2 separate regions of the Homo sapiens genome follow, and region 2 is linked to region 1. Evidence: fine-mapped expression QTL. A gene starts in region 1. The other region holds a variant in brackets. All regions are shown on one strand. Distances are between the middles of the regions. Region 1 holds the start of PODXL2 (podocalyxin like 2). Region 2 overlaps LINC01471 (long intergenic non-protein coding RNA 1471).

What was found.
Region 2: its variant is fine-mapped to the expression of PODXL2 in whole blood (TOPMed, PIP 0.96).

Annotation. Positions count from the first base shown.
Region 1 is chr3:127,626,434-127,631,806 of GRCh38, forward strand. PODXL2 (podocalyxin like 2) reads left to right here and starts at 2,752. Exons shown (of 8, transcript NM_015720.4): 1 at 2,752-2,856. The coding sequence starts at 2,787. It overlaps LOC107986126 (a long non-coding RNA gene), which reads right to left and starts at 2,530. Exons shown (of 2, transcript XR_001740892.2): 1 at 2,373-2,530. RefSeq lists silencers at 2,685-2,754, 2,865-2,994 and an enhancer at 3,395-3,454.
Region 2 is chr3:127,526,819-127,532,191 of GRCh38, forward strand. The region is part of intron 5 of LINC01471 (long intergenic non-protein coding RNA 1471); the gene reads right to left. Among named protein-coding and RNA genes, the nearest start is that of LINC02034, 7.8 kb to the right of the region's middle. The variant A/C (reference allele first, on the strand shown) is at 2,625.

The DNA.
Region 1 (5,373 bases):
CAGAGTAATTTTTGTATTTTTAGTAGAGACAGGGTTTTGCCATGTTAGCAAGGCTGGTATCCAACTCCTGACCTCAAGCTATCCACCCAGCCCGGCCTCCTAAAGTGCTGGGATTACAGGCGTGAACCACCGTACCCAGCCTGAGAAGTGGTTTCTTATTGTGGTTTTGATTTGCATTTATCTGATGGTTAATGAGGCTGAGCATGTTTTCATGTGCTTATTGACATTTGGAGGAATGTATATTCAGATCTTTGTCCATTTTAAAACATTGAGTTGTCTTTATTACTGACTTGTAAAAATTCTTTGTATATTCTAGATACATGATTTCCAAATGTTTCTTCCCATTCTGAGGATTGCCTTCACTTAAATTTTTGTTTCTTTTTTTGAGACAGAGTCTCACTCTGTCACCCAGGCTGAAGTGCAGTGGCACAATCATAGCTCACTGCAGCCTTGAACTCCTGTGCTCAAGCAATCCTCCCACCTCAGCTTCCTATGTAGCTAGGATTACAGGTGTGTGCCACCATGCCTGGCTAATTTTAAAATTTTTCATAGAGATGGCATCTTGCTTTGTTGCCCAGGTTGATCTTGAACTCTTGGGCTCAAGTGATCCTCCCACCTCAGCCTCCCAAGTAGGTAGGACTACAGACATGCACCACTACACCTGGCTAATTGATTTACTTAGAGATGGGGGTCTCACCATATTGCCAAAGCTGGTCTCAAACCCCTAGCCTCAAGTGATCCATCCTCCTACCTCAGTCTCCCCCAAGTAGCTGGGATTCCAGGCACATGCCACCACCCCTGGCAGCTTTAGAGTTTTCTTCATTTGGAGCTTACATATCTGGTTTGGTTTATTCCAGTTTTTAATAATTGTTGCTGTGATTGCGATCTTTTCTCCTACTACATTTTCTAAGTGGTTATTGAGGATACACAGAAAAGCTATTGATTTCTGTACGTTATCTTTTATTCAGCAATCTTGCTGAACTCATTGGTTTTCAATTATTTTGCCAACTGATGATCTTGCATTTTCTAGATAAACCTGCAAATAATGAGTTTTCCCCCAATACTTTCATCCCATTTCTTCTATCAGGCCTTGTTGCAGTGTCTCTTATAGAATATTCAATCATTGTGGTGGTAGTGAGGATTATTTTGTTCCATTCACTTAAAAGAGAATGTTTCTAATGTTTCATCATTAAGTATGGTTTCACCATTAAGTATGATAATAAAGGTTTCTGGGAGATACCCTTAATGGAATTGAGGACGTTTCCTTCCATTTCTTGTTTGCTTCTAAGATCTTTGTTTCTTGTAACAGAAAAACAAAACAAAACACAACAAAAAACCAAAGGGATGCTCCTTTCATCCTCAGAGGAGGAAAGAAGAGGGAAGCTGGGTCTAGACACACCCTGGATTTCTCTTTTCCAAGCCCAGCTGACAGCCACTTTTCTAGTACCCCTAACACCCACCAAATAAAAGGTGCTACATTTTGCTCATGTTCTTTCTTTTGTCTGGAACCCATTTCTTCCCTATGCTCCTCCACCCCAACTCCTATTTCTCCTAAGTATTAATATTTAGTCTGGAAGAGTCCCGTGAGATTATCTCCAATGTCTGATGCTATACCCCTGCATAGGGGGGTGGGGATATACTTTGAAAAAGCATATTCAAATAACGATTTGTTATTTTAAAGAAGTGTTTTCCTAATATGGTATATATAAAGTAACATTCCACAAAATTGTGGTTGCTGTATATTTAAGCTGCAGTACTTCTAAAAGGGTAGTCGGGGTTTTTCTCTCCCTAAAAGAGGCTGAGCTTCTTTCTAACTCAGGAACTCTATCAGTGAGCTTTTCCCTCTGCCTTGTAAGTTCTCTCCCAAACCCAATCTCCTACCTAATACCCACTCATCCTTCCAGATGCCAGCCAGCTTACCTTAAATGCTGTTTCTTCAGGAAGGCAAGCATAAGGTTCCCCTCTGTGCTGTCTCCTAGCCCCTTATACTCCTTAACAGACCGACTACCAATTGCAATCATAGGACCATATGTGTGTCCATTTTGTTTTTCAGTCTGTTTTCTCTACGAGCCTAAACTATGAGGACGAGGGATGTGCCTGTTTTATTTACCACTACAGTGCTTGGCATATTAAGGATCTTCAGTTGCCAAAAGGGAGCACATGTTAGAGAAGTCAGCACCTCTCTCATAATCTAAAACCCCCCAGTTAGCAAATGGGGCAAGTGGGGCCCAGAGGTGAGAAGAGATTTACTCAAGGTCTCGGAACCAATCTGATCCTGAGCCAGACTGCCTAGCTCTAAAGTCCAGTTCTTTGCTCTCAGGTTCTCCTTCAGGGCTCACCCAATCTAAGTACCCTGAGAAGTCTTTCCTTACCCCAGGCCTCTGTCCACCCTCACAGTCATTTCCACGCGTCGTCCTCGTCCCATCAGTCCCATCTGCCACAGCTGCCCACTCTGCTTCCCAGGGAACGGGTGACCGCGCGGGGAGAGAGCGGCATCCGGGCGCGAGGTGCGAGGCCCAGGTCTGCGGGCGGCCGGGCCAAGCCCCCGAGCCTCGGCGGTGCTGATTGGCCGGCCTGGCGGGGGGGACGGGCGGAGGGACGGCCGCCCGCGCGTCCGCTTCGTCTCCGCGGGGGCGCGCCCGCGGCACGCGGCCGGGCGGGGCCGGGCGTGAGTGACGGCCATGCGGACCAATGGGGCGGGCGCGCGCCGCCGCCGCCGCCCGCGCGGCCCCTGACGCGGGCCCGGGCGCCGCGCCGCTGCGGCTGCAGGCGGCGACGGCTACACCATGGGCCGGCTGCTGCGGGCCGCCCGGCTGCCGCCGCTGCTTTCGCCGCTGCTGCTTCTGCTGGTTGGGGGTGAGTGCGCTCCGGGCCCGAGCGCGGGAGGGCGGGCGGCGGCGTGGGCGCGGTGCTGGACAGCTCCCCGGGCCGCCAACAAAGGGGCCAGAGTGCGGCGCCGCCGGGAGCGCGCGTGTCCCGGCCGGGCCGCGGCGCCGCCCCGACACACGCGCACGAGGAGTGGGTGCGTGGGGGCCGCGGCGGGCGCCTGGCGTGCCGGGCGACCCCCGACAAAGGCGCGGCGGTGAAGCTGGGACACAGCACCGTGGCCCCCACGCCGCGGCTCTCAGGGGCAGGTGCGCAGGCTGCTGCCTCGCGGGCCGGGGGGGCGCGCACGTGTGGGTGTGCATGTGTGTGCGTGTGCTTGTGTGTGTGCGAGTGCATTGTGTGCCTGCGCACTCGGGGGAAGAGGCGTGTGTGACAGCCACGCGGGGAGGAGGCCGCATTGTGAAGGTCCCAGGGGCCGCCTGCGGAGTGTGGGGCGGGTACGCTGAGGCGCGGGTGGCTGTTTACGCGTGGCGTTGCCGGGAGGGAGTGTGAGTGTGTCACGGTGAATGGGTATTCTCTCCTGTTCTGGGCGACTCTATTAGGAGCTGACAAAAACGGGCGTACAGCCACGGAAGGCCCGTGACAGCACACGGCGGGAGGCTCCCACGCAGCTCACACACGAGGGAGGTGTGAGACTCAGATGTGTGGTTTCCATTCAGCAGCCACGCCGGGCGGCGGGCTGTGTGGGTGCGTGGCGGGCTGGGGGTGTGGCACAGGTGTGAAAGGGATGTGTCTGCCTGAGAGAGAAAGAGACGGGCCTCCTGATGGCTTCCAGCGCAGACGGGGATTTAGTGGAGGGGGTGTGTAGGGAGGTGGGCATGGGGTGTGACAGCCCATGAGGCAGGCGGCCACTATGGAAATGGCGGGGAGAAGGGCTGTCTGCAAAGGTGGGTCAAATAAGGTCATAGCTGAGCAGCTCCTGCACACACTGGCAGAGCAGAGGGAGTGTGTTACGGTGTATGTTAAGGTGTGACTGGTGCTGCTGGAGGAATACCCGGATGAGGAAGTGTGCATGTGTGCCTGTGCACACTCATCAGCCAGCTGTAACTTCACTTCTGATGCACACGTCAAAATAGCGTCCTAGTATGATGTGTGTATGTGCATGTAGGAGTGTGTATGTGCATGTAGGAGTGTGCACAGGACATTTCCCACGCAGCTGGCCCATGAAGACACAGGCACTTTGTGTCCAGATGTGTGTGAGTGAAAGAGAAACTAGTGAAGGGTCTCTATGGGAAGGGAGGAACAGTCTTTGCCTGAGGTGGGCCATGAACCTGGGACTCAGAGTGGCAGAATCCCAGGGTAAATGGCTGGGAGGGGAAAGTGGTCCCTCGCACATTCCTGTGCATGTCATGGGAAGGCTCAGTTCAGGGAGGGTACATTTTCTCCACAGTCAGTCTAGGGATGAAGAAAGGCCCTAGGTGGTGTGCACAGAAAAACATGTCCATCAGTGTTGGCTCAGACACTCACACAAACCCACCTGTATTCTTTCACGCCGTAAATCCTCTTTGGAAAAAGGCGACATTCAATAAATAAACATCAATTGATTGGTCTGCTATTTCTTTGTGTGACAGTCATAAACCAGAACTGGCCAGCAACGTCCTCATGGACCCAGGCCCAGCTGTAACTGCCCATGTGCTTATGTGACCAGCTGTGAGGACTGCAGGCAGCCTGCCTCCCGGCTCCTCTCTCCCGTGCATGCTCTTCATGACGCACTTCTTACCCCCTGCTTGGAGGGCATGTGCGTGTGTCTAGCAGTGTGTCTCTTTCTTACACACCTTTGTGTGGAAGCCCTTCAGGGACCTGTCAGCATTGTTTCTCAGGTGCTTACAGAGTGGAGGTAGCGTGACTGTGCTCAGCAGTTCCTGTTGTCGCTGACACTTAAGGGTGAGGAGCTGTGTGACAGATGCTGCAGGGCCCCTCCCATGTTGGTGTCTGCCAAGAGCTTAGGGAGACTGGACTTCAAAGACCCTGCTTAGGGGAGAGGTGGGGTGTAGCTGATGGTGGAAATCAGAAAGGAGTTTTGCACCGGGAGCAGATCACAGGGACTGATTTGAAAAGGTAAGATAAAACATGAGGATCGCTGGGGTCTTGTTTTTTTCACCTCCCCAAATGTCAGCCTGCTTCCTTTGCCTCCTTCTGTGTTTGTTTGGGTCAGATTTTCATTTCTTTGAGGCTGATCCCCTAATCCTTTTCATGTGCCATCTTTTTCTCTCTCCTCTGTTGGGTGTGATGATGTAACAGAAAATTATAGGTGCTAGAGGGAAAAAGGAAATCAATCACACGCAGAGTGTAATTCTGAAATTTTAAGTCAGGTGGGGTCTCAATTAAGGCAGATTAATTATTAAGTGCAAAACTAATTATACACAGAATGGCTATGTCTCAGCTACTATTTTGGTGTCATCTTATGGTGGGCAAGTTTGAAAATAAGTAACCTCTTGTAATTACTTAAATAAATACCCATTGCCAAGGCCTTTGAAAATATCAAGT
Region 2 (5,373 bases), 100 kb before region 1:
CACACTGAGCAGAGTGAAGAGGAGGGTGAGATGGGGCCCCGGAGCTGTGAAGGAGGACCTTGTCTTGAACCGTCCTCAGGGACAATGTGCCAGGGGAGGGTCCAGCCTCCAGGCTCCTCCTCTGCCAGCCCCATCTGCCCCTGAGCAGTTGCCTGGGAGGCAGCAAGGAACATGAAGAGTCACGTGGATTCTGAAGACAAAACTAAACTGGAATCTCAGCTCTGAACCCCCAGCTATGTGACCTTGATTGTGTCATTTTCTAGAAGACACTGTCCTTTGCAGCCCAGACCCCTCCTTCTGGACCAAGGTATTTGGGAGTGTTGAAGGCTGAAGCCTGACAGCTGCGTCCCTGGGTAGTGCCCTTGGATAGCAGCAGCCGCTTCGCCCAAGGTCACACCCCTCCTGGGGAGGAAGGGGGCTTTGGTAGGCATCCCACATCCAATGTCTGGCTGGTGAGGGGGTACAGAGTCCTGGCCCCTTAATTAGAAGTTAAGAACCACTCTGAAGGGCCATTCAGGTAGGAATGGCTGAGGCTTCTGTTGCCCGCAATCAACTTCTCCCTCTGCCCAGCCCTCCTTCCCTCACTCCCTCACCAGTGTCGAGCCTGAGCCTACTCCCTAATAAACTTCCTGAATGCAAATCTTCATCTCACAGTTTCTTTCCCTGGAAAACAGACCTAAGACGCACTTCATTTCTCTGGAACTTAGTTTCTGCAGATTTACTGAGTTGCAAAGCTTAAAAGCAATGATGTATGCAAAGCTCCTGGTCCAGGACATGATAAGTCTTCAATAAATGTCACTTGTTCTCTTTTCTGGCCTCCCTGTGCCCTTTGGTCTCACACATATGTGTATCTGCCATTGAGCTCAAGCCAAGGCCTTATACAGGGTAGATGCCCAGTGTGTTCTGAATTGAGTCAATACACAATATATGACAAGCATTGCACTTGTCACATTTATTAGAAGATGAAGTGGAAATGGTTCATTGTCCCCCAGTATCCATGCTCAATTTCTCTCATAGAAATAAAACTCTAGACTTTTAGCTGGGTACACTTCATCCCAGAATGAAGACTACAGCCTTCCCTGCAGCTAGGTATGCCCATCCGTTTAAATGCTGGCCAGTGAAACATGAGCAGAAATGATGTATGCAACTTCAAACGTGTCTTAAAAAGAAAGGTCATGCTTTGCCCTTCCCACTGGTAAGAATGCAGATGTGATGGCTGGAGCTAGAGCAGCCACATTGGACCACAGAATAGCAGGGCAACTGTGAAGCCAGCAGATGTACCCTGGGCTGAATGCTCACTGGCTGTGCCTTTCAGGACCTAGTGCAGCAGATCTCTCACCTCACAGAGCCTCAGTGTTTGCATATGTGAAATGAGACAAATTCTAAGTGAGACCATATACAATGGAATCTCACTGTACCCAACAGTTCTATTTTACAGGGGAGAAAAATTCACTTAGAACTGAAGGGCTTGGACTCTTGGGAATATTGAATTTCAGACTAACTCCTTCTTAATTAACTCATTTTGTTTATATTTATCTTTGTGGTGTGACCTTCCTTTCCTGGGGATGGTCCAGATCTAGCAGGTCCAGGGGAAAGGCTAACAAATAAAGAAACAGATCTCTCCCTGTCAAAAAGGGCATCGAGTTCATGTAAATTAAAACGTGGGCCTGGCAGGCCTCCACAAGGCACGTCAGAGGTCCAGAGGCGCTCATGATGCTTATATGCTTGTTGTTCTGTGATGATTTAAAATGCCCTCAGAGCTGCAGGCACCATGGTGGTCTGGAGAGGTGCAGGTGAACCAGGAGCTGTGCAGCCTTTGCATATAGAAGAAGAGGAGGGTTTTCCTATAGATCCTGGTCAACGATGGAGAGGTTTCCATGAGCTCACTTGTCTTTGAAGTTAAGAAAAAAAAGTTTCCATGAGCACAGCAAAGGGGCATAGAGTAGACCCTGGCCTAGATGACATGGAGGGTTTTGGAGGAAATTGGGAAGAAGAGTTTTAGAGGACAACTCATGAATGCGTAGAATTAGCATGGATTGGCTGTGGGTGTTTGTGGATCCAAGGACTGGCTTTCGTCTGGCCTGGACCCAGGCCTCTCCAAACCTCAGCCCAGCCCCATCCCAGCTGCCCTGCCTCCAGACCCTGCCCACCCTCTGAGATCCAAGGAACCTCTCATTATAGCTTGGCTTTCTGCTCTATGCACCCCAGGGTATCACCCAAGGTCATGTTTAGACTTTTCACAAGAATTGGACAATTAGAGCAGACAAACAGTATGAATAACAGCAGTGCACAGCTCAGAATCTTGAAGGAGGCTGGCGTAGAGGATGGTGTATGTGTGCAATTTCAAAGGGCTTTACCCACTGGAACTGCTGCAACCAGAAAGATGGAAGAAGTCAAGGTACTTTTTCTTATTTCCCCCCACCAAATACAGCTAAAAGTCATGGGTATTCTGTGTAGAATGAATACAAGGAGGCCCTAACATGTGCAGAGAAGCACAAGCTGGGAGCCTCAGGACCTGGCAACAGCATGGTGGTGAGTTCCATCTTTTTGCTTCGTGTTTGCCAAACTGGGTGCTAAAGAGTCAGCAACCTAGAAATACCAACAGGCTCAGAAAACAATCCCCC[A/C]AAAAAACCTGCTCCCTCTAGCCAGGCAAGGGGCATTCTGGAAAACTTTAGAAGATAACTGACCTACGCCATCAGACCACACAGGAAAAGACGAGGCCCCACACCACCCTGGCCAGCAGAGACTGAGGAGGGAGCCTAGACCTCCACCCTCACCCAGATGTACTGACTGAGATGCCACCCCTCCTTGGGAAGGTATTGGAGAAGCCCAGCTGGGGGCAAGGAAGTCCACCACAGCCGGGCCTCAAAGGAGGCTGCTGAGACAGAGGTTTAAATAAGGCCAGGAGCCCCACCACATAACCCCTAATATCCAGGCTTCAATCACAAATCACTCCACACCAGGATCCAGGAAAACACCGACCCTGATGAGAAGAGATGCAGAGACTAACCCAGGATGACACCAACAGCAGCATCATCTGAACAATTTGAAGCCACCATCACAAAAATGCTCAACGGCAAACACAACAGAATCAAGTGAGAAAATAGAAAATCTCTGCAGAGAAACAAGCCACAAAGAGGAACAAAATGGGAACTCAGGGTTGAAAACGCAACAGCCAAAATTAACTCAGTGGATGGCTCAACGCCAGAACAGAGAGGCTGGAGGGAAGAGTCAGTGAACCTAAAGATAAAATAATAGAAATTACTTAATTTGAACAACAAAGCAAAAAATAGACTTAGATAAAAATGAGCAGAATCTCGGGTATGTATATTTTGGCCTATATACATTTTGGTCTATATTTTGGTCTCTCTATTACAAAAGGCCTAGCATCCATGTCGTGAGAGACCCAGAAAGGAAGAAAGATGAGGGTGGAGCTGAAAAGATTTTCAAGGAAATAATGTTTAGAAATTTCCTAAATTTGGCAAAAGACATAAATTTACAGATTCAAGAACCTGAGCAAACCCCAAATGGCATCAATCAAAGCAAACCTATGCCAAGACACCTTCTATTGAGACTTCGGAAAACTGAAGACAAAGACAAAAATCTTGAAAGTGGCAAGAAAAAAACATCTTGGCCAGGCGCCATGGCTAACGCCTGTAATCCCAGCACTTCGGGAGGCCGAGGAGGGCAGATCACTTAAGGTCAGGCGTTCAAGACCAGCCTGGCCAACATGGCAAAACCCCGTCTCTATTAAAAATACAAAAATTAGCCAGGTGTGATGGCGCATGCCTATAATCCCAGCTACTAGGGAGGCTGAGGCAAGAGAATCATTTGAATCTGACAGGCAGAGGTTGCAGTGAGCCAAGATCGCACCACTGCACTCCAGCCTGGGAGACAGAGAGAGACTCTACCTCAAAAAAAAAAAAAAAAAACAGAAACAGGCTGGGTGCGGTGGCTCACGCCTGTAATCCCAACACTTTGGGAGGATGAGGCGGGCAGATCACGAGGTCAGGAGATCGAGACCATCCTGGCTAACACGGTGAAACCCCATCTCTACTAAAAATACAAAAAATTAGCCGGGCATGGTGCCACGCGCCTGTAGTCCCAGCTACTCGGGAGGCTGAAGCAGGAGAATCGCTTGAACCCAGGAAGCAGAAGTTGCAGTGAGCCGAGATTGTGCCACTGCACTCCAGCCTGGGCGACAGAGAGAGAGAAAAAAGAAACAGCATCTTACCTGTAAGGGAAAACCATTTTAATGACAGCAGATTTCTCACTGAAACCATGGAGACCAAAAGGAAGTGGCACAGCAATTTTCAAGAGCTGAAAGAAAAGAACTCTCAGCCCAGAATCTTACATCCAGTGAAAATATCCTTCAGAAATCAAGAGGAAATCAAGACATCTTCAGAAGAAAAAAAAAACAGAGACTTTGTCACCAGCAGACCTACCCAAAAGGAGTGATTAAAGGAAGTTTGCCAAACAAATAAAATGAGAAAAGAAGGAATCTCAAAGTGTAAGGAAGGAAGAACACAGTCAACAAAATATAGATAGAGACAATAGACCTCATCTCTTGAGTTTTCTAAATTATGCTTGACAATTGAAGCAAAAGTTATAACACTGAATGATGTGATTGCCAACGTATGTAGAGGAAATACTAAAAAGAATTGTTATACAGGGGGAGAGAACAGGGAAAGTGAAGGACTTAGGTTTCTCCTCTTCCCCCCCCCCCCCCCCCCACTGATAAAATGTCAACATCAGCTAACTGTGATAAGTTATATATGTATAATCTAATACCTGGAATGACCACTGAAAAATCTGCACAAAGAGATGCTGTCAAACGCACTATATACAAACCAAAATAGAATTTGGCAGACCTGGGTTCAGGGCTGAGATAGAGCCCAGTGGGGTGTCAGAGTGGGGCATAAGCCTAGGGCTGGCCTGTCCACCCAGTTTCAGCCAAGGGTGGCATGGGGGTGTGGAAAGGGAGGGCACTGTGCAGGCTGGGACAAGGGGAGACAAAAGAGGCATCCTCCATAAAAAACACAGGGAGGCACTCACTGCCAGGCCTGTGGGTGGCCTCCGAGAGGCTGAGCCTCATGGAGGAGAGGCAGCCAGTTCCAGGCAGTGTGGCAGGCCAGGGGCAAACTGGAACTGGAACTTGGGGAACTGATTCTGAGGTCACCCTCTCAGGGGGTAGGAGTTTGCCTGTCCCTAGTTGAATACAGAGATCCAGTCAGGGACAGGGTCTGGCCTTCAGGTCACTGTGGGGAATTGAATGGGGAAACCGAGGCTGGAGCACAAAATAATGGATTGGACCAGCACTGCACAGTGGTGGTGGGTGTAGGGGAGATGCAGTAGCTTTGTGGCCCTGGGTGC